Linked DNA regions of Homo sapiens. The protein of the gene in region 1 interacts with the protein of each later gene in a pairwise test. Each region holds a gene or a part of one and is shown in the gene's direction. Other genes may lie near its edges.

Region 1 (7,024 bases):
CAAGACATTTACAGTTACCAAGAGGGCTTATGGATCATAGAGATTTCCAGATAGGCTTCCGAGTCTTGGTATCTTAGAATGTAAATTAATATTTTTAATTATTTTTTCTCTCATTTTATTGTGATTTTTTTCCCTGTAATTCTAGGTTGACAATCACTCCAATTTTTTTAGGCAAATAGAAAGACAAACTACTACCTGAAGATTCATAATGCTAAGAAACTCATACAGAGTTAGCCATTCAGAGGGAATGGAGTTTTGTTACTTACTTTGGCCAGTTATAGAGATGTTATTCCACTTTTTATCAGGTAGCTGAAAATTTTAAAGAATTACAACTTTTTATTCATTGACCACAATTTTTGTTTAAAAATGTTTTCTTTTCATCCTAAAAGTACATTGTAGGATCATGCAAATCAATGACTGTGTATAACAGAACTGAAAAATTTTATTCAAGGAAAAAACTAATATTCTGTATGTCAGATTGGAACTTTGTTAATTGAGCTATAGTGAAATGGAACCTGGAAATTTTATATTTATATAAATCTCGAAGTCTGTTAGAGATACCATTATGGGGGCAGATTGCATTCAGAGAGGCATACATATATATCAGACCTATTTTCATGAATTTCTATAAGTGAACTAATATTCATAATTATTTGTAAACCTAATTAAGATGAAAGTCACTTATAGTTTTCATATATATGAGAAAGTGATAATTCTGAATTTATTAGAGACACTGTGTTTTAGTTGTCTATCTCATGCTTCCATATAAAGGGCAGACAACTAGTAATCAAATTCTCTTTCCCTAGAAATCTATAATGGAAACGGAGTTAATAATTGGTATATAGAATTACATTTCATTAAACTTACACATAATCTTAAATACTAAAATGTGTATTAGAACAAAATGAGAAGCTGTGTTCTGTAGAAATTTCCTGTCAAGATGTCTAGACTTGTAATTATGAATTCTATTTCTATGGTTGGAAATAAACAGGTATAATCAAGAAATTATCGCACCTCAAGGTGAAAAGGTATACAAGTGATTTAGAGCTTAGTCAAAATTTCAGTTGAATTTCTTCCTATATTAAAAAAATAATAATTCCCTCTTCTTTCCCACCTTCCTTTTATCCTAAATCTACATAACCCAATGACAGGGACTAGTAGACAAACAGATCTGTCACCTTTGCACCCTCTATAAACCTTTATCACTGGAGCATGTGCATAAAAACGTCCTTGGCTCCTGCTCTGAAACTCAAAGGACAGCTGCCTTTCTGCCAATGCCAGGATGTTACCAACACTTCTTAGCCTGAGTCCCTTTCCTCTACCCCGAAGGCTCCTTGACTCCTACAGAAGTCTGCCTCTTTCCCTAGGTGTTTAAGTTACTATTATTGCTCTGTTAGGTGGATAATGCCATGTGCTAGTTTCTCTTATCCCTCATCCCTCCCCTGTTCTGTGAGTGAGATGTTCTCACCTTCCAGGCCCTGATCCCACCAATCCAAAGCTACCTGGATTTCTCCAGAAGACTGCATGTCTGAAAATAATCCTGGCAACATTCTTTGAGTTGTTAAGTGAAGCACCTGGCTTTCAACAACTTTCTTAAAAAGTAGCCTGTTTTAAAGAAACAGTGTGTGAGAAGTGTAGATGATTACATAGATAAATTCTAGAAATGAGGCGGAAGAAAATGCCTCAGTTTATTTGGAAAACAGGTTATTTATAATTTTCCAACTACAAAAGGAAAAACAAGATTTTATGAATTTTGAAACAATTCGTAAAGACCCCCAATAGAATTGATCTAACAAAAAGACTGTCATGTTATTATATTTAGTACGGCACTTGAACTAGAGTAGATGCTCAATAAATATTTGAGTTGAATTGAGTTATGCATTTGTATAAAAAGAATTCTGAGTAGAGATTTATTTGATATACGCTTTCTCCTATATGAAATTTGTAGGACAGTTTTCTGTGCTCTTCAGGACACTGAAAACAGTAAAACCGTGTGAGACAGTGACTATAAATAAAATAGTGTCTGTTTCTGCTGCAATTTAGTGTAGTTTACTTTTAGGTTATTGTAAAGAATTGGATGATTTCCAAAGCCTTTTTGAGAGACATGGCATCATTAAGAAGACTAACATAAAATCCTAATATTTACAGTGTACCCACCTTCTAACAAATCTAAAAAAAAATGGAAATACTCAAATGTCAAAATGAGTTGCAGTGTGGCCTGTGGTTCTTCCAAAAAACAATAGGGCAAGCCCAGATGACCTGTTACATTTATTGAGCTGTACCTTGGAAAAGATTCATATAATTTTATCTCCTTTTAGATTGCCTTACATAATTTCTGACAACAAAAGTAAATGCCATGGAATTAAAAACTATTTGACTGTTACACTGCATCACAAAGATGCCTTCGTCCTCCATGTATTGCATATTGTTTTCCTTCCTAAATGGTAGTGACCTGCTTAGGACTCAGCAAATACCTTCAAATGGTTCGCAGGATCTTATCAACAGGTGTGAGGATAATGTGCCGTAAAGCTAGCAGAGGTTAACACTGCTGGAGAAAAGGAAGCTTGGAAAGAAAGTACATGGCATTCTAGGTCCTAGAGCATGCAAGCATGTATCTAGGAAGTTGAAATCCACTGTCACATAATTGTTGGAGATATTCATGAGTGAAATTGTGTCACCTGAAACATAATGATGATAGGAAGTGTCAGAGTTCACCTGTAAGTTGTCAGCCTGCAAGTCATATTTTATTTCTCTAGATCTCATTAGAAGTATGTACTTCACTATACTTTAGTACAGCAAACAACCATTTATCTGGAATATGGTTAATAGTCATTAGAAACAGTAATTCTCAGTAATTCTCTGAACTTTAGTATAGCAAACAACCATTTATCTGGAATCTAGTTAATGGCCATTCGAAAACAAACACAGTTAGAACCAAAATGATTCTTAATATGGTGGCAATCCAGAAAGCACTGGCCACCTTGCATGGTCTTTGGCTTATCATAGTGGACATTGATTACCACTTACAGTAGCGAAGCTCTGGAAGGGGCAGAAAACTGATTGGTCAGACATTGATATGATACTCTAACTTATCCTGGAATTTGCCCAAAAAACTTGTCAGTTTGCTCCTATTGTGTGGCTTTTTCATTCAAAAGCAAACATTGTATGAATGGTTGCTATTTGTGGTTCAGTTTGAATTATGATTATGCTTGCATTTACTAAAATAATATGGCCAATGTTCAGAATAGAAGGTTATGGTGATGATAACTTACAATTTAAAACATAGCCATAGACTACACAGATGGGCATTAATGCCAATCACAAAGCTTTACTCATCTCTGGAATTGTACTAAAAATAATAAAATAAAATAAAATAAAATAAAATAAAATGAACAGGAATAGATTAAAACAGTCCAGGGCAATTATCCAGATAATTATGGAGAAATATTTTTACTCTGCAACAAAAAAAGCAAAAAAATAAGAAGTTTAATTTTTCAGCTTAATTTTTCAAGAATTCTTTTCTCAGTTTATTAACATATTAAATAATTCCCAGCTTTTTGCTTCACATTGTCATACCTACTGGCAGAGTCTGGAGTCTAGGAGTCCTTTTCGTAAAAATTCTGGAGGCATGGCTTTGCCATCTTTTGGGTGGATACTGGTTAGGGCAAAACCACAAATGGCAGATATGTATTCCATGGGACTTCTCTCCCAGCAGAGCTTCCATCTTGCTTCCTTTCAGGGAAACTCTTTTAACAAATCCTCTGCTAACTGCAACTTATTCCAAACTATAATCTTGGTACATATCATGGCAAATAGGGGAGGAAAAAAAGTTGTCCTGAGAAATGTTGGAGGAATATGGTGATGAATCTCTGCAAAAATAGGACAATCTCCAAAAACTGGGGCAATTATGCAATAATTAGTAAAATAATCCCGAAATAACAGCAAAAACTACAAGTGCCAACCTTCAGTAGGACGTTGACTAAGGCTGGCCTGAGCCAAGCTATTTTCATGTTTCAAAATCAACTTTAAAGAAGGTCGAGAAGCAAAGGACTTGAGGTTACTACGGTGTCCTGAAAGGATGCCTCAAAAGAAATGTTTAAAGATATTTTAAAACATGAGCCAATAGTTAGTATATTAAGAAGTTATCCTTAGTAAATTAATACATCTCCTCCTTTCTGTGGGAAATGTTAAATTCTCTTACTTTACTGAGGGCAGGTACATCTATTTCACTATTATAGTAAGTGGCTATTACACTATTATCGTAACATGAAGGAAAGGATACTCCTGTATGTGGGATCGTTATGATACCATATGACAAACTGAGTGATTAATATTTTGGTCAAATTAATTGAAAAAAATACACTTTGAGAATTTGTTATGTACATAGCATTTTAGTAGGTACTGGGGGCAAATAAAGACACATACTTTGTACTTTTAAGCAATATGTAACCTCTCTGGGAAGAAAAAACATGTAAAGCTGAGTAACTATCAGAGGTCATATGCAGCTAATGAGGACACTGTTTACCAGTGCTAGAAGCTGGGGACAGGTGGGCAGCTGTGGGCTACTCAGTGTTGTGTAGGAAAGACATTGCCTGCTTGGTTAACTGAATTCAACATTTATTGTTCCATTTTATTCATTATTCATTTCAAAATAATTCTACTGTGTGTATTGTAGCAATTAAGTACTTCACTCATGATCATACAACTGGTAAGTGAATTAGTCGCTTTTTGTGTGTGTGTGTGTAGACAGTTACCAACCTAAATCTAGGGAAAGGCAAATGTATAAAAAAAATCAAATTCTGATAATTAAAGATAATTCCATCTATGGTTTAGAAAATCTCGATTAAATATAACAAAACAGGCAATTAGGAACAGAACGTTAAGATGGAAGAATAAACTTTCTGAAGTCAAAGACTTTAGTTAACTAGATGTTTGCTTAGAGTACTTGGCCCTGATAAAAATAATTGCTTTCTGATGTGTTTGTATTCTCCCAGCACAATTCTGTTTTATTTTGTTTTATTTTTTGGTGGCAATAGATGCAAAAGTTTTTTCTTTACCCGTCTTCTTCAGAGAAAGACATTTTGCCCGCAGATGTTTCATTTCCAACGATTCTCTTGTTCTCACTCACCTACATTCCCACAGCAGTAAAATTAAAGCAAGGCTCAGACATCTAATCTTCTGTGCTCAGTAATACAAGCCAGACAGATGAAATTTCAAGAGTTCATATTTATTCCAGGGATTGTAGATTTAGCCATTTCTTATTCTGAGTCCTAAGGATGTCTTATTGCTTTTCCTCCACCAAAGCTCCCTATTGTGGTGAGGCTGGAGAGTGCCAGGATATTGACTTCCTGATCTCCTATTTTCTGACATATATATTATGCTACCATGAAAAAGCAGACCAGGCCAGGCACGGTGGCTCACGCCTGTAATGCCAGCACTTTGGGAGGCCAAGGCGTGTAGATCACCTGAGGTCAGGAGTTGGATACCAGCCTGGCCAACATGGTGAAACCCCGTCTCTACTAAAATTACAAAAATTAGCCAGGCCTGGTGGCGGGCGCCTGTAATCCCAGCTACTTGGGAGGCCGAGGCAAGAGAATCACTTGAACCCAGGAGGTGGAGGTTTCAGTCAGCTGAGATCGTGCCATTGCACTCCAGCCTGGGCGACAAGAGCAAAACTCCATCTCCAAAACAAAAACAAAAACAAAAACAAAAACAAAAAACAAAAAAAAAAAAAACCAATTATCTATTCATCAAACTCTGTTCTGAGTAGGAGGCACCATGGAGAGGGAAAGAGCACTGGTCTATGTGGTATCAGAAAGATTTGGCTTTGAATCTAGGTTCCCCTTTTTTCCTAAGGTGATTTAAAGCAAACTGTTTAATTTTCTCTGAGACCCTCTGTCCTCATCTGTAAAATAATAAGAACAAATCCAGCTCAGAGATTTTGCAATTGTTTTGAGATTAAGATAATGCATTTGAAATTGCTTTGGAAATCTTAAACTATTACCCAGATAGACATATTATTATTATTACCACTCAGTAATATAAAACACCTAGAAGGCTTCATCAGCTTTACCACTAATAATACCCTGAGGCATTAATAAAGGTAATTTTTCTCCTTTTTTCCCCTCCCCCTAGCACCTTCTACTATGAAGTGCTTCAGACATTAGAAAATGTGGCTTAATGAAAACTGAGGGGTGGGGGAAGCCTAAATAAAGAATTTAATAATGGCTGATTGATTTAGTGACAAAGAGAAATTGCTGGTGTTATGCTGCTCAGTGCGATGCCAAGATGCTAGTTTTTTCTTGTCATGCTGAAAAGGTTGAAAAGTAGAGGGATATGACCTATTTGTCATTAAGTTGATCTTTGCACTGACTGAAAGCTATGGTAGAGGAGGAGATGCTGAGAACCCCAGCAAAGAAGCATGGGTCAGGTAGTCACCAAAAAAATTGCATGGCCAGAGGCAGGAGAAGAAGCTTCTCTGATCTAAAAAATTGAGGGGGCTCCTGATTGCAGGCAGGGTGCCACCCCTCCACAGTGTGGCAGGACAAGGCTCTTGTCCTCTTTCTGGTCCAGGAGCATGTTTTGTATTGGGCTGACAGGGAAGCCTTAAGTGAATGTTATATTTAAATGATGCCATTATGGCACTTTGATGACTGTAAATGTAGATATAGGTAAAATAAAGCAGCATGGTCTATGCCCTTGGGAAATAGTTTGATTTTAACATATATTATTGTGCACCCACAGTGTGCAGCGAACAGTATTTGGTGCTGAAGATAGAAAGTGGTATCAAACAGTGAAAGAGTTTTTAAGCTAAGCTTATATGTCTGGGGCCATAGAACAAACACTGAAGCACTATAATTTCAGAATATGAGAGAGAGGGCGCTGAGGTCTCCAGCAGGTCAAGACAATCTTGCAGAGCAGGGAAAGCTGGTGGCGGGCCCAGAGGAGGGCAGAACTTAGGTGAGGTGAAAAGGAAGGGGAATGTTCCCCTAGATTTAAGTGAACATAAAGCATCGGAGTGTAC
Region 2 (7,788 bases), on another chromosome or scaffold:
TGCCTAACCACCTGACCGCAAGGCACAAGAGCATCCTTATCATACCCTGCTGGGCAAAGGCGCAACTGAAGGAACATCCCCATCATATCCTGCGGGGCAAAGGTCCAAGAAACAGCCTATCACATCCCGCTGGAAAAAGGTCCAAACCGCCTGATCACAGGAACATCTTATCAATATCCTCCCGGCGAGCTAGCCATACTGCCCAGACCCCCACCTAGACCTATAAATTACGCCAGCCTGTAAGCGGCAGGGGGCTCTGGCATTAAGCTTGTCCCCCACCTCCTCAGGTCTTGTGCTGGATGTAAAACCTGTGTTGCCATAGAGCCACCGACTCTCTCTGTGTCTTTCTTTAACCCTTGCCTTCCCTTCAAAACCTAACAGTGGGACCACAGGCTCTGGGCTGCAGCTGGGTGTTCTCATCCTCCAGTGTGGATGGCTCACAGCAGAACTGAGTCCTAATAACCTCTTGTGAATGCTGCAGAACTCTCTCTCTGTCTCTCTGTCCCGCTCCCCCAACTGCTGCACGAGTCCAGAGATGCAGCTGGCCAACACCACCCAGAAGGACCCCAAACAGAACAGCTGGCTGTCTCGGAACATTCCCGTGGCTCCCTCTGCCCTGTCCCTCTCACCGTGGCTCCTGGAAGTGCTCTATGGCCTATTGAAAGGACGCCCCTACAAAGCTTCCCCTGGTTCCCCCACCTGAAAAGTGATTTCTCCTCTTCCAAATTCTCACACACTTTATCTGAACCTTTCTGAAGACACCTGCCTCACTTGCTAGTTTGGCCAATGTTTATGGAGTTCTCTGCACTGGAGGCTGGGGGCACAATATAAGACATGGCTGGGTGGCAGCAAACATAGCATATGTGTGGCCAGGGCTGTCACTGAGACACGCAGGGACATGGGGATGATGTCTCTGCCTGGAGAAGGCTTCACAGAGAAAGTGCCACTGAACTGCCTGGGGACCTGGGGGCTTCCGGGCGCTGTCCGACTCCACTCTCTCACCACCCAGTGGCTCATTGGAGTTCTCTCCTGGGGCCGGAGCATTGCTCAAAGCACGGTCCACTTTCAATCCATCTCCCTGCCACCCTGACACCTGCACACTCAGAACAGAGTCAGCACTCACAGCATAAATGAATGGATAAAATACAGCAAAAAGAACAAATTGCTTTCTGTTCTCTTCCCCCAGCAACTTGAGATCTTCTAGAGACCCAGGAGTATGTTGCTTCTACCTCAGACTGGGGAGAGGGGAGCTCCCCAAAACGATGGAGGAGATGAAGATATCAACCAGCCAAATTCCTGTTCACGACCAGCCTGTTGTGAGCTCTCCTGGGGGATCAGCAGTGGCTGAGAGGTTGGATGTGTGATGGAGTAGGGTGGGTTTATGGAGAGTGTTTGTTCCAGACATGACACAGGGGAAGGGCTCACAGGGTTCAACCTGATGAGCAGGTGCAAAAGATAAGGCCCCTATTAAGGCTAATTTGCTGAGATTTTCATTTTAGCAAAAACAAATGATCAGTTTTTTGGATGTCTCAAATATGTTTGAAATTTATGTGTATTCTCTATGGTTGGGCATGAATTTATGAATGTATGTGTGTATAAATAAATTTAAGTGTGTCCTTCAAATAGTTTATATCAGGAATCAGCAAATTATGGTCTTTAAGCCAAATCCAGCTGGCCACCTGTTTCTGGAGGTTAGTGTTTATTGGACACAGCCATCATCATTCACGGGGACTTGTGTCTGGGGCTGCTTCTGGGCTGTGGCAGCATCTGCCCGCCCTGCTCTGTGCCATTACTGGTGTTTTGTTATCTGATGGCTTTGTGAAGTTCCTGGGCAGACTCTGCCAAAACCTGCCAAGTGATATAAGTTTGTCAGTTTCCATTAATTTCTTTCAGTGTTTGCTTTATATAATTCAAAATTGTGTTCTTATGTGTATAAGGATAGGACTATTATTGCTGGGCCTGGTGGCTCACACCTGTAATCCCAGCACTTTGGGAGGCCAAGGAGGGTGGATTACCTGAGGTCAGGACTTCGAGACCATCCTGGCCAACATGATGAAACCCCATCTTTACTAAAAATACAAAAATTAGCTGGATGTGGTGGCGTGCACCTGTAATCCCAGCTACTCTGGAGGCTGAGGCAGGACAATCGTTTGAACCCAAGAGGAGGAGGTTGCAGTGAGCCAAGATGACACCACTACACTCTAACCTGGGTAACAAGAGCGAAATTCTGTCTCAAAAAAAAGAAAAAGAAAAAAAAAGAATAAGACTACCGCATCTTGGTGACTTGCACACTAATCAATAAGAAATATTCTTCTTTTTCATTTAATCCCTTTTCTTAGAATTCTTTGTTGTCTTGTATTAATATTGTTGTCCCTGATTCCTTTTGTATTACTTTTCCTCTGTTCCTTTTTTCTAAACAGTGATGATACATAACTCAAAATGAATCATAGACCTACATGCAAACACAATGTTACAAAACTCCTAGATGGTAGCATAAGAGGAAATTTGATCATCTTGGTTTTGGTGATGACTTTTAGATGGCAACACCAAGGCACAATCCATGAAAGAAAGAATTCATAAGCTGGACTTCTTTAAAATTTAACATTTCTCTTTGTGAAAGATATTGTCAAGAGAATGAAAAGATAAGCCACAGACTGGGAGAAAATGTTTACAAAAGACATATCAGACTTTGTATGTTATCCAAAACATACAAAGAACTCTTAAAACTCAACGATAAGAACACAAACCAAACAATTAGAAAATGGGCCAAAGACCTTAACAGATATCTCATCAAAGAAGATACAGAAGGTGACAAATAAGCATATCAGAAGATGCTCCACATCATATGTCCTCAAGGAAATGCAAATTAAAACAACAATGAGATACCAGTACACACTTATGAGAATGCCCAAAATCTGGAACACTGGACAACAGCAAATGCTGAAGAAGGATGTGGAGCAACAGGAACTCTCATTCATTGATGGCAGGAACACAAAATAGTACAGCCACTTTGGAAGACAGTTTAGTGCTTTCTTAAAAAACTAAACATACTCTTACCATAGGATCCAGAAATCACACTCCTTGGGATTTACCCAAAAGAAGTGAAAACTTATGTCCACACAAAAACCTGCATACACATATATATGAATATATGGCACAATGGTGAAGTCTGGGCTTTTAATGAAGCCATCCTAAATAGCATGCATTGTACCCACTAAGAAATGTCTCATCCTTCACCCACCGCCTCACCTGCTGCCCTTCACAGTCTCCAGTGTCTATGATTCTACTCTCTACCTCCATCTGTATGCATGATGTAGCTCCCACTTACACATGAGGTTGCACAGTATTTGACTTTCTGAGTAATTTCACTTAAGATAATAGCCTCCAGTTCCATCCATGTTGCCGCAAAAAGCGTGATTTCATTCTTTTTTTATAGCTGAGTAGCATTCCACTGTGTGTGTGTGTATGTATCTTTTGCTGTTAAAAGTAATATTGCCATCACATGGGGAACTGGGAGAGGGAGAAACAGGTCCCCCTGGTTACATAGGTACTGACGAGAAGGAAGTTGAAGAAAGATGATGGGTGGAGAAAATAGGTCCCACCTAGGGAGACATCACATCAGCTCTGTGGAGCCCCAGAGTGCTTAAAGGGCTGGCACTAAATGAACCTGGAACTCTCTTGCACCCTAAAAGGAACATTGCAAGGGGGTAGCAGAAAAAGTCCATTTCAGTGATTCATCATCTCCCTTTCCTCACCATGCCCCAGGGATTCCCATGCCTTCCCAACCCTCTTGCCCCTACCTGGGTCAGCCTTTCCACAGCAGGTTAGGGCACATTATAGCCAAGGGCACAACTCCCAACTCCTACACAGGCTGTTTTGCATAGGAGGAGGAAAAACACTGAAGACTTTCTGGGAAGTTAGTGCCATGGGGCAGGAAAGAACTTTTCCCACTCCCTGCCTCCAGGCTCATTCCATGGGGGGGTCACTCCACCACTCAACCTAGATAGTGAGGCCCCTGACCCCAGTCCCCCCACCTAATTCCAGGGCTTCTGTGAGGGGCTGACCAATGGTTAGCAATGAAGTAACCCTGCTTCCCTCCCTGGACTTTGAGTTCCCATAGGGCAGACCCTGATGTGACCCAAGACCTATAGCACAGGGGATAAGAGTAAGGATTTGATTCAGGCTTTTCTGAGTCCATATAATGATTTGTTGTGTTTACTAGCTGAGTAAACTTGGGAACATCTCAACTTCTCCTTTCCTAAAATAGAGATTGAAGCACCTCTTAGGACTATGAGGGTTGAGGAGGATGCAGGAGCAGCAGGTATCTTGATATCTAGACATTAAAATGCTCAGTCAGCGGTGGGGGTCATAGAACAGGCTGTCATAACAAATGTGTGGAAGGATAAGGGGAGGGAACAAACAAGACCATGCTGCCTTCAGGAGTCTGAAACTCCATCCTCTTTGGGTCCAGAGGCCCAGTGCTCTTTTCTCCCATTTTCTGACCTGCTACTACACATGTACCGCTGCCTTACCCTCAAATCAAGGTTGAGCCAGAGAAGACTCCAGGTGAGGTCTCTGGGGTGGGGTGGGACCTGGTGACCTGGGACACTGGCCAGAAATCCTGAGCACAGCCTCCTGGGTGTGTCCCACCCACCTGATGTGGGGCAAGCCTCCAAGAAACAGATGACAGAGGTGGCCCCAGGCCTCCCAGCCCCTGGGAAGAGCCAGGCTGAGCCTTATAAAGGACTGCTCTTTGTCCAAACACACACATCTCACTCATCCTTCTACTCGTGACGCTTCCCAGCTCTGGTAAGTCTCACCTGCCTCTTTGCGTTTTCTAGAAGTGCCCAGTGCCTGGCCTGCCATGCTGCCTGTAGGAAGGGAAAGGGCTGTGGACAAAGACTCAGAAGCCTGGGTCTAGGCCAGCTCTGCCATTAGCTGGGCTGTGTGACCTTCACTTGACCCCAAAAGCCCACGTCTGTATAACCAGGTGGCTGAACCAGACCTGTCCATTGCTCCTTTGGGATCTCCTGAGGCAACTCCTGTGGAAATGTCCCCAGTGGGACCTGAGCACAGGACCCTCCCTGTCCTCTTCCTCCCTGGATTCATCCTCCTGTTGGGGTCCCGGTTGCTAAATCCCCTCCCCAGCTCCAGCTCCACAGAGGGTGGAGGGCTAGGGGTCCCCTGTGAATGCTTTGGAGGCTCTCCAAACCCCCAGGCCTGGGACCCCGACACAGCATAGCCCTGGCCAGATGGCTTGCCCCTACCTGGGTAAGGTATTGAGAAACCAACGCTCCGTCACTCCCTACCACAACCTGCAAATTGTCAGTCACCCTCTGGGCACAGGGCTTGCCCTCTGGCCTTGGCCTCAGATTCAAAAAAGCTCTGGGTGGCTCCTCTTAGTCAGTTGCCGGCATGGAGCTTTCTCCTGCATTGAGAGGTGTTGGGGGTTTATTGTCAGACACCCATATGCATTAGCCAAGGTCCTTTCCTGGTTCTTTGGAAAGTGTGGGAAGTGAGAACTGCACTGTCCTATTTTTCAGGCTTGGGGTGCAGGCCAGCCCAGACTGACTACTGGCTGAAAGATCTGCTTTGGGAAGTCAGACATTTTTATTTAAACAGTCAAGGCTTGGTGATTCAGAGGGTGCAGATAATTCCCAAGAGCAGACATGAAGTGACTCCCACCTCACTCCCACCCCGTCCAGCAGCTTAAGAACCAGAGAGTTATTTCTGTTCCTTGTAACAGAGGCCATTCCTGTTTCTCGTTCCCAAGGGAATACAAGAAGGGCCCCCTGTGCTCGGGACAGGACTGTGTTTCCTGCTAACACTCACGTCCACGCTCACATGTGCACCTGGAGCCTGCACACACCGTGTCATGCAGGGCTTGCACTTGAGTCAAGGTGGGGCCCACGGTGTCTGGTTCCTGAAGCAGCCGAGGAGGGTCAGACACCAGATCACCAAGGCCATTGTCCTGCCCCCATGACTGTCACCCCGACTGTGAAGCTGGAGGAGATGGATTTGGTGCTCTTTTAAGAGTGGGGTCTGCCATGTGCTGGCTGAGGCTGGGGTGTCCCAGCTTAGTTCTTCCATGTGTTGCTGGCGCCCGACTCTCCCTGCTTCTCCCTCTCTGAAGCACTGTCCACAGCTGGACTTCCGCCATCCACCTGCATCTCCTCTTGGCCCTGGCCAGGATGGGCCAGGTCTCAGACTTGGTCCTACCCTCTCATTTTTGAGCAACTTATCCCATCACATTAAAAAAAAATTGAGTTCGTTCTGCTACACCTTATCCGTGTTTTTACTCTGTCCTCAGCCCTCCTTCCAGCACTCCCAAATAGAGACCCTAACTTAAATGAAGGGAAAAAAATGATTGTCTTTATTTCCTGAAGGCTTTTTGAAAGCAAAGATGAGCAACACTCAAGCTGAGAGGTCCATAATAGGCATGATCGACATGTTTCACAAATACACCAGACGTGATGACAAGATTGAGAAGCCAAGCCTGCTGACGATGATGAAGGAGAACTTCCCCAACTTCCTTAGTGCCTGTGTGAGTCGGTGTCTAGCTTCTCAATGTTGGAGGATACATTTTGCTATGTGGCCTTGGACAGATCACCCTCACCCTCTGATTAAAAAATTTCCCATTTGCAAATAGGGCTTTATTACTTGGATCATATGTGAATCTAAGGATGGTAGGCAAAAAAGTATGAAAATGGGAAAGAGTTATACAGATATAAAGGAGGTTATTAGATGGTCAGCAAAGTGTGCAGCTTGAGGGCAGTGCACAGTCCCCTCCCAGCACTCACTGACCCTCTCTCTGTGAGACTGAAACTCACATGCTCAGGTCCTGTTTCCCAAAGGCCCCACATCAACATCCCTGAGATTACTGGGAAAGCACTAGAAGTTCCATTGTTAGTAGAAATCAATAGCCCTCTTTGCAATAAACAAGACTCATTAGCAAATCTGAAAAAAAACTGTGGGCTACTAGGTACCAAAGGGTCTAGATGACCAAGAGTAGGATACCCAGAAGATGAGTTTGGTGGAAAAGGAGAAGAAAGGAGAGGAGGCCAGAGAAAGAAGAGAACAAAAGCATGAGGGCCAATTTTGAGGCCCTGGGGTAGAACTAAGGTAGGCAGTGCCCTTAGAGGCTGGGACGGGAAAGAGTGAGGCTGGGGCAGGGGACTGCTCTCCCCAAGGTCACTTAACAGAGCACCTTGGGACAGGACCTGCCTCCCATCCTGAGGTGTGAGACAAAAAGACTCCCTAGAGAACTCCAGGGATAACACTCACGTCCTCACCCCAACTTCACCCACTCACCCTGTGCTCTCAGCCCCGCCACCATGCCTGTGCAGATCTAGGTACTTGTCTGTATCTCTGCCTCCTCCTCTCCCTCCCAGCCCAAAACTTGTTTGTGATTGAATTTTTCTATTTTGTATGTTTTTCTCTTCACAGGACAAAAAGGGCACAAATTACCTCGCCGATGTCTTTGAGAAAAAGGACAAGAATGAGGATAAGAAGATTGATTTTTCTGAGTTTCTGTCCTTGCTGGGAGACATAGCCACAGACTACCACAAGCAGAGCCATGGAGCAGCGCCCTGTTCCGGGGGCAGCCAGTGACCCAGCCCCACCAATGGGCCTCCAGAGACCCCAGGAACAATAAAATGTCTTCTCCCACCAGACACTTGCCTTATTTTCTTCTTCTCTTTGGTGACCTACGTTGTCAAAACTACCAATTCCAGGTTAACTTTGTTGGAGAATTTCCCCCACCCCCATCCAGTGGGTCACCCAGGAGTA
Region 3 (7,024 bases), on another chromosome or scaffold:
CAGCCCGCTCCACCACTCAAAATACTGCATCAAAACCAGGCCACGCTCTGTTGGGGGGACACCAAACCTGGCCCCAGCAGGAGCGTAAGAAACTTCCTGCGAGTTGGAAAAAAATGCCTTTTTTTTTTTTTTTTTTTTGAGACGCAGTCTCGCTCTGGAGTGCAGTGGTGCGATCTCGGCCCACTGTGACCTCCACCTCTCAGGTTCAAGCTATTCTCTTACCTCAACCTCCTGAGTAGCTGAGATTACAGGCACCCACTACCACACCTGGCTGATTTTTTTTTGTATTTTCAGTAGAGACAGGGTTTCACCATGTTGGCCAGGCTGGTCTCAAACTCCTCACCTCAAATGATCCACCCACCTTGGCTCCCGAAGTGCTGGGATTACAGGCGTGAGCCACTGTGCCTGGCCAGAAATGCCCTTTCTGACCAGAGTCAAAGTTCCCCCAATGCCTGGGTAGCCCAGCTTCCCCATTGGCTCCTGAAATCCACCCCTTTAGGTTTCCTTTCCCTGCTCAGAAGCTGTGCCAGAGGGGACATTTCCTGGGAGGCTGAGGGTCACCACGATACCATGACAGAGTCTGGCAAGGTATGGAAGGCACTCTCAGGCTAGCTGCCCCTTTGGGGGCCTCTTGGACCTCAGGAGCTCAAACCAGCATAATTTTGGAGCCAAGGGACCTCATGAGCCTCTCAGAGAGCTTGGAGTCTGCCCTGATTTGCACAGATGCAGGCCTGAGAGAGGAGGCCTGGCAGGACAGGAAGAAATGGTTGACTCCTCCCAAGCTGGAGCCCACCCAGCATGGGTTAACACGCGCCTTCATCCTCTCTCTCCTCAGCCCATCCTCTATTCCTATTTCCGAAGCTCCTGCTCATGGAGAGTTCGAATTGGTAAGAGATGTGCCTCCTCCAGGATGAGTGCTGGAGTGGGGTGGACTGGGGCGGATAAGCCCGGGTGCAAAGCTGGCCTGGGATGGAAGGGTTGCTCTGTCAGAGAGGACCTCACCCCCAGCAACCAGCATCCCCCGGCTCCTAGAACCCCCATCCCTGCATGGCATCTCCACCCCGGAAACACAGGGTGAGGGTGGGAGGAAGGGGGTTGTTTTTTCCCTTGGGACTGACACTTCTCCCAACACTGCTCTCCAAAGCCCCTTGGCAACCATGTTTAAAGCAGGGTCACAAAATCCACATGCCCCTGGTAACTGGCAGGGGAACAGCTGGCCCTTCTCAGTTCTTATTTTATTTGAACTGGCAAAGCAAACAGAACGGGCCAGCATCAGCCTCGGAGGCTTCAGAAAAGCAGAAACAAGGGCCCTGTGGCTAGTCCTTGTTTGACCCTTCCCTCCCTTGGCTTAACACAGCCTTTGGCAAAGGTCATAACCAAAGCAGCCTGTACTGAGGAAAAGCTCTGTGCTGAGTGCTTTTGTGTGCCTGATTCCATTTAAACCTCAGCAACCCTAGGAGGGAGGTACTATTATTACTGTCCCCATTGTATAGAGGAGGAAGCTGAGGCACAAAAAACAGGCAACATTCAGTAACTTGCCCAAGATCTTTCAGTTACTAAGAGGCAGAACTGGAATTTGAACCAGGTAGTCTGGCTCCAGAGGCCCATTAAGTTACTTGCCCAGGGCCACACAGTTAGCAAATGACTGTGATGAAATTTGAACCCAAGAAGCTTGCCTCCAGAGTGTGGAGGCAAAGCCATCCTCCGTGACCCCTCCTCCATCCCATAGTCACTTGGTATTTGCTGGGATCAGTAAGCAAGAGCACTGGGTGCCAGGAGAAACTTTCCTCCAAGAAGATGAACCCATCCCTGGGCGCCAGTACCTCTGCCCTGGCTGAGCCAGAAGCCGGAGCAATATAGGTGCTGTCTGTACGGCCTGTGTGCTTTGGCCTTCCCTCCTCCAGGTGTCTCCTCCAGCCCCAAACACTGTCACTCCCCAGACTGGAGCTGACCAACACTAGGAGGAGCCTGGTATTGCCCAGGCTCTCCACACCATGACATGTCTGGTCCTCCTCCCCTCATTCCTTTGCCCTTCCCTGAGATTGGCCATCACCATACTTGAATGCCCAAGTGTGTGTAATACACACATGCATGCACACGCACGCAGTCTTCTCCACTAGTGTTGACCCACCCAAGTTTTTTTTACCCTCAGCTTGCCAGGGGAAATTATCAAAAGGGATGGAGAGGAAATCTGGTGACTGGAGTCACGGCAAATGCTCTGAGGCCACCAAAGAGCCTGATGCCTGTCTAGAATCTCTAGTAAACAGCCCTGAGAACAGAGAGAATAGATTGGAAGAGATTCTTCTCCAACAGAACAAGAGTGCCATCTGTCTGTGTGTGCTGTGTGTGGCCACCTGAGCTCCTTCCCTTGGCCCTTAGTTGCCTTCTTGAGGGAGTAATTGCATGTCTTCAACCAAGACACTGGTCACCACTGTTTAAGGCCCTGGGGGGGCAGAGTTAAACACAACACAGCCTTGCTGAACTCCAGGAGCCCACAGAGTGCCAGGGCATACACCTTTATCACCATCCAGGGGGCATGAGGGCCCCATTGGGGGGGTCCAGATCTTGAGGTCTCTAAGAGTTCAGGGGTGAGTGAGGCAGAGCATCGTGCATCTGGGGTAGGGAGCACGTGGTGACAAGGAAAGCTGAGAGAAGGGGATAGTGCCACGGTGAGCCTTGACCACCCAGAAGTGTTAGAGAAGCCTCCCCCTCTTTGGCCTTAATGTCACCTTAGAAGGGCTCTTTCCTTTAAGAGTACGGCGAGAGGCTGTTCTTTGACTCCGCTATGTGCGGTCTCTCCTAGCTCTGGCCTTGAAAGGCATCGACTACGAGACGGTGCCCATCAATCTCATAAAGGATGGGGGCCAACAGGTAAGAAGGCTGTGCCCAGACCACAATGTGGGAATTGGAGGCCTTGAACAGGCACCAGGCAGGGGAAAAAGGGGAGGCTCTGCCCCAGAGAAGTGAACCTGTGTCTTGTGGACTATCACTGCAGGAGGCTGCTGGCTCTCCCTTGTGGGACAAGGTGGCAAGGTGTGCAGTAGCAGGAGGCCTGGGAAGGGCCCAGGTCCAGACTGTGTACCCTAGCCTGGGCTCTCCAGTGCCTGACCCTGGGAGGGTGGGTGGCTAGTGGGTCCCCACCCCATACTGGGCCCTCTGGATGGCTGACTAGGGTAGGAGCTGCCTTGGTGGCCACGGTGTGAGATGCAGGGAAAGCCCATAGCCAGGCTGTTAGGATGAAGCCTATGGCTCAGCAGCAGCTGGGCTTTGGGAGACTGCATGGATCCCCCAGGGATTACCCTGGGCCTAGGATTTAGGGCCTTCCCAGGGAAGGGAGATGGGGGTGGGTGGCAGGCCTGGGGTTCTCCTGCTTGCTTGGCTTTCCTCTGGCCAACTCAGGCCAGGCCACCCAGCCCACCAGGGCCTTGTCTCCACAGTTTTCTAAGGACTTCCAGGCACTGAATCCTATGAAGCAGGTGCCAACCCTGAAGATTGATGGAATCACCATTCACCAGTCAGTGAGTGCAGGGCCTGGGGGAGGGCCCTCATGAGAGCAGTGCCCTGAATGAGAGCGCCTGACATCTCTTCCTCGCCTGTGTACAGTCAAGGTGCCTAGCACATAGGAGAGGCTCAATACAAGACTCGTGGGGAGGGTGCGAGGTTATTTAGGAAAATAAGGGAAGATTCAAGCACATGGAGAACCAAGTTCTGCATGATAAGGTCCAAAAAGGCTTATAGGGCTTGAGCTGAGCAGAAGCAGGGGGGAAGAGGTGTAGTGATGGTGCTGGAAGAGGAGAAGGAGGAGTTTGCTGGCCCTGTCCCCTCTGGTCCAGGGGTCCTGGGCCCTCTCCCTGCCTCACTGCTCCCCTCTGGACAGCTGGCCATCATTGAGTATCTAGAGGAGATGCGTCCCACTCCGCGACTTCTGCCTCAGGACCCAAAGAAGAGGGCCAGCGTGCGTATGATTTCTGACCTCATCGCTGGTGGCATCCAGCCCCTGCAGGTGTGGCACTTGTACACTTGCACCCTTGCACACCTGACACACTCTTACACTCACACATTGGCTGTGAGCTGCCCAGTGTGGGGGCGGGGGTGTCAAGGGAGGGAGGGGGATTCTCAGGGCCTCTGACCTGGACCATGTGAAAGAAGGGGGTGAAGATCGCAATCTCAGAATTCAGCCCCCCAGCGGGTCCCCCGCTGCGTTCCGAGAAGCTCTAGTTTCCAAGGACGCATGTACAGGTGCTTGGGGTGGGGAAAGGGCCAGAATGGCAGGGGAGAGACTGAGCAGGCCCCAGTCCAGGCCTCCTGCCTTTAACCAGAGCAGCTTCCGTTTCATCTGTGCTATCTCAGTCATATACTGGGATACTTGTAGGATTTTATTTTTTAAGTGTCACTGTTAAAACAGACAACTAAGTATTAAAAACAGTTCATCTGTGCCAGCTTCTACTCTGAATGAGGAAATAGCCCCAGAAAGGTGGAGTGACTTAGGAGTCCCACAGGTAGGTCATAACAAAGTGGGGACTAAGTCAGAATCCCTGCATGCCTATGCCCTCTACCCGCATGTCGCTTTAACAAAGGATGTTGGAGCAGACAGACATCTCCATTTTATAATGAGGAAACAGAGGGAAAATGGCTCCAGGGGTGCCAAGATGGAGCCAGGCTGGAAATCTCTGGAAGCCGGTCTTGTGGACCTCCCTCATCCCAGCCCCACCCTCTTTCACACTCCCTCTCCTCACAAGGGACCATGCAAGGGAGAAGTGAGGGAGACAGGCCTCGAGTTGTGGGCACACCTGCCACAGCCATGGCCGCGTCCTGTGTCACATGAATAGGGATTCTTGCACATCTCTGACAGAATCACGTGGCTTTTTGAGGCCACTGGGGCAGCCTGCAAAGGTGGCTGCTGGGATGGCTACCTCCCTCCAACCTCAGGGCCCTTGGTTGAAGGAAGGGGCTCATGGAGCCTGGGGGAGAAGGGATAGACATCCAGCCAGGGGCAGATGGGAAGTGAACTTCCCTGAGGGGGTTTGGCGAAGGGGTAGCCCCCACCCAGCTGTCAGCGCAATCACAGATTTTCTTTGGGCTGCACAGAACCTGTCTGTCCTGAAGCAAGTGGGAGAGGAGATGCAGCTGACCTGGGCCCAGAACGCCATCACTTGTGGCTTTAACGGTGAGTCCTCACCTCTGTGAGCTGCCCCACAGTGGCCTCTTAGAGGTATGGCCCTCGCACACAGGGGCCTGGGTATCTGAACCAGCCTCCCAGGCTGCTTTGGGCCTGACAGTTGCATGGATGAGGGCAGGACTGGGGAGGCAATGGGCTGGGTGGGCATCCAGACCTTAGCTCCAGCACTTCTGGGAACCTCGGTCCCTGAGCCCACAGCCCTTCATAGCTGGATGGCCCAACTTCAGCTTCACTGCCTACTCCAGCTGGGAAACCAAGGCCAGCACAGCGCCAGCCATCAGAGTGAGAGCTGTCACCGTGGCCAGTGGCAGGGCTTGTCCACTCGAGTGGGGAAATGGTGATTGTCTGTGCGGAGCCTCAGGAAACAGCAGCTCATCCCTAACAGCTCTCTCGAGACCTGGCTGCCACATTCTCACCAGCAGCCATGCCCAGTCTGTCACTCAGTTGGGCGCCCATTTCATAACTATGGAGGCCAAGGCCCAGAAAGCTTTGTGTCCCCTCCCTGCGCCCAGAATAAGATGTTTATGTGGCCTCCCCACAGCCCTGGAGCAGATCCTACAGAGCACAGCGGGCATATACTGTGTAGGAGACGAGGTAAGCTGTCCCCAGACCTCCCCAGGCCCAGCCACAGTGGCTGCCTCCCTCATGCTGACCTCCCTCAAGCTCAGAGCTTCCTGAGAAGGCGTCTGCAGGGGGATCTCTGTGCCATGGGGCACTCCTCAGCTCACTCCCACTAAACCGTCTTAAGAGGGAGTTACTCAAGGTAGAAGACTGGCTGTGAGAGGATGAGGCGGGCCAGCATCAGTTGAGGGATTGTGCTAGATGATGTCTGCGCAGTCAAGGCAATCCATCTTCTCTGGCCCTCTCAACCCACAGAGTTGGTTGTCAGGGCAACTGGAGCATGGCCTGGGAGGGCACTTCAGCTCCGGGGGACAGACTCATGCAGGCCTAGGGCAGACAAGAATTGGAGGTGGGATGGGTGAAAGAGCCGAAGCAGATTGTTGGTACCCCCAGTAGAGTCGCAGTGGACACACCCAGTCCAGCCACTGACTCTGGGGTATGCACCCTGATGGGAACCCACCGGGACCTCTTTCAGGTGACCATGGCTGATCTGTGCTTGGTGCCTCAGGTGGCAAATGCTGAAAGGTAAGAGAGAGCCCCGCCACCCTCCCTTCTCGTGGCTCTGCCCACAGTCAGGCCCCACTCAGCTGGCGAGATAGCATCTCATGCAGACGCTTCGCCAACCAGCCAAGGAGCCCACCATGCCAGGCCACATAGCCACTTCTGCCTGGAAGAGGGCAGAAGAAATTGGGGCAGTGCTCCTACTACGCCCACCACAGCCCAGATGAACCTGTATAGATAGCCCCAGCTCCTAAGAGGAGGTGGCTCACCTGGTGGACCCCCAAGAGCACCTGCCTGATGTCCTCAAATGTGGTGTGTCTGTGAGCAGTAGTGAGCTCTACCTCTGCATCCTTCCGTGAACCCTTTGGTAGGGCACAAATGAGCACCTCTCTGGAAGGCATCATGCTAGGCGTTAGGGATATGGAAACGTATGGCACATTCCCTGCCCCCAAGAAGCTTACAACATGGGGGAAGAGAGTCTGTATATATAAATGCCTAGCACTGGGCCTTACACATAGCAGGTTCACAAAGAAATAGGAACAGTAGGTAACAGATGCCAAATGATACTGCACAAGACCTACCCATCCCCTGTGAATAAGGGCTGCCCCATCGTCCTTCCCTGGACAGCTCCCTCGACCTCATCCAGCCCTGCCTCTCTGCTCCCCCTGCTGCATCAGGGCAGTCTCCCTGTGTCCCTGAAAACCTTAGCTTAGCAGGTGTTTC

The links. Proteins that work in one complex are often made in the same cells at the same time.
Region 2: the proteins of CLVS2 (region 1) and S100A7 interact in binary tests that used the Homo sapiens proteins (3 or more experiments, as listed by UniProt).
Region 3: the proteins of CLVS2 (region 1) and GSTZ1 interact in binary tests that used the Homo sapiens proteins (3 or more experiments, as listed by UniProt).

Annotation. Positions count from the first base shown.
Region 1 is NC_000006.12:122,999,230-123,006,253, forward strand, and holds part of CLVS2 (clavesin-2), read left to right. Parts: intron 1-7,024. UniProt on the Homo sapiens protein: Required for normal morphology of late endosomes and/or lysosomes in neurons. Binds phosphatidylinositol 3,5-bisphosphate (PtdIns(3,5)P2).
Region 2 is NC_000001.11:153,457,629-153,465,416, reverse strand, and holds S100A7 (protein S100-A7), read left to right. Parts: upstream 1-4,765; 5' UTR 4,766-4,809; intron 4,810-6,386; 5' UTR 6,387-6,403; coding exon 6,404-6,544; intron 6,545-7,446; coding exon 7,447-7,611; 3' UTR 7,612-7,673; downstream 7,674-7,788.
Region 3 is NC_000014.9:77,324,035-77,331,058, forward strand, and holds part of GSTZ1 (maleylacetoacetate isomerase), read left to right. Parts: intron 1-504; exon of another isoform or gene 505-570; coding exon of another isoform or gene 571-588; intron 589-835; coding exon 836-887; intron 888-2,803; coding exon 2,804-2,871; intron 2,872-3,437; coding exon 3,438-3,518; intron 3,519-3,877; coding exon 3,878-4,003; intron 4,004-5,088; coding exon 5,089-5,167; intron 5,168-5,720; coding exon 5,721-5,773; intron 5,774-6,275; coding exon 6,276-6,325; intron 6,326-7,024.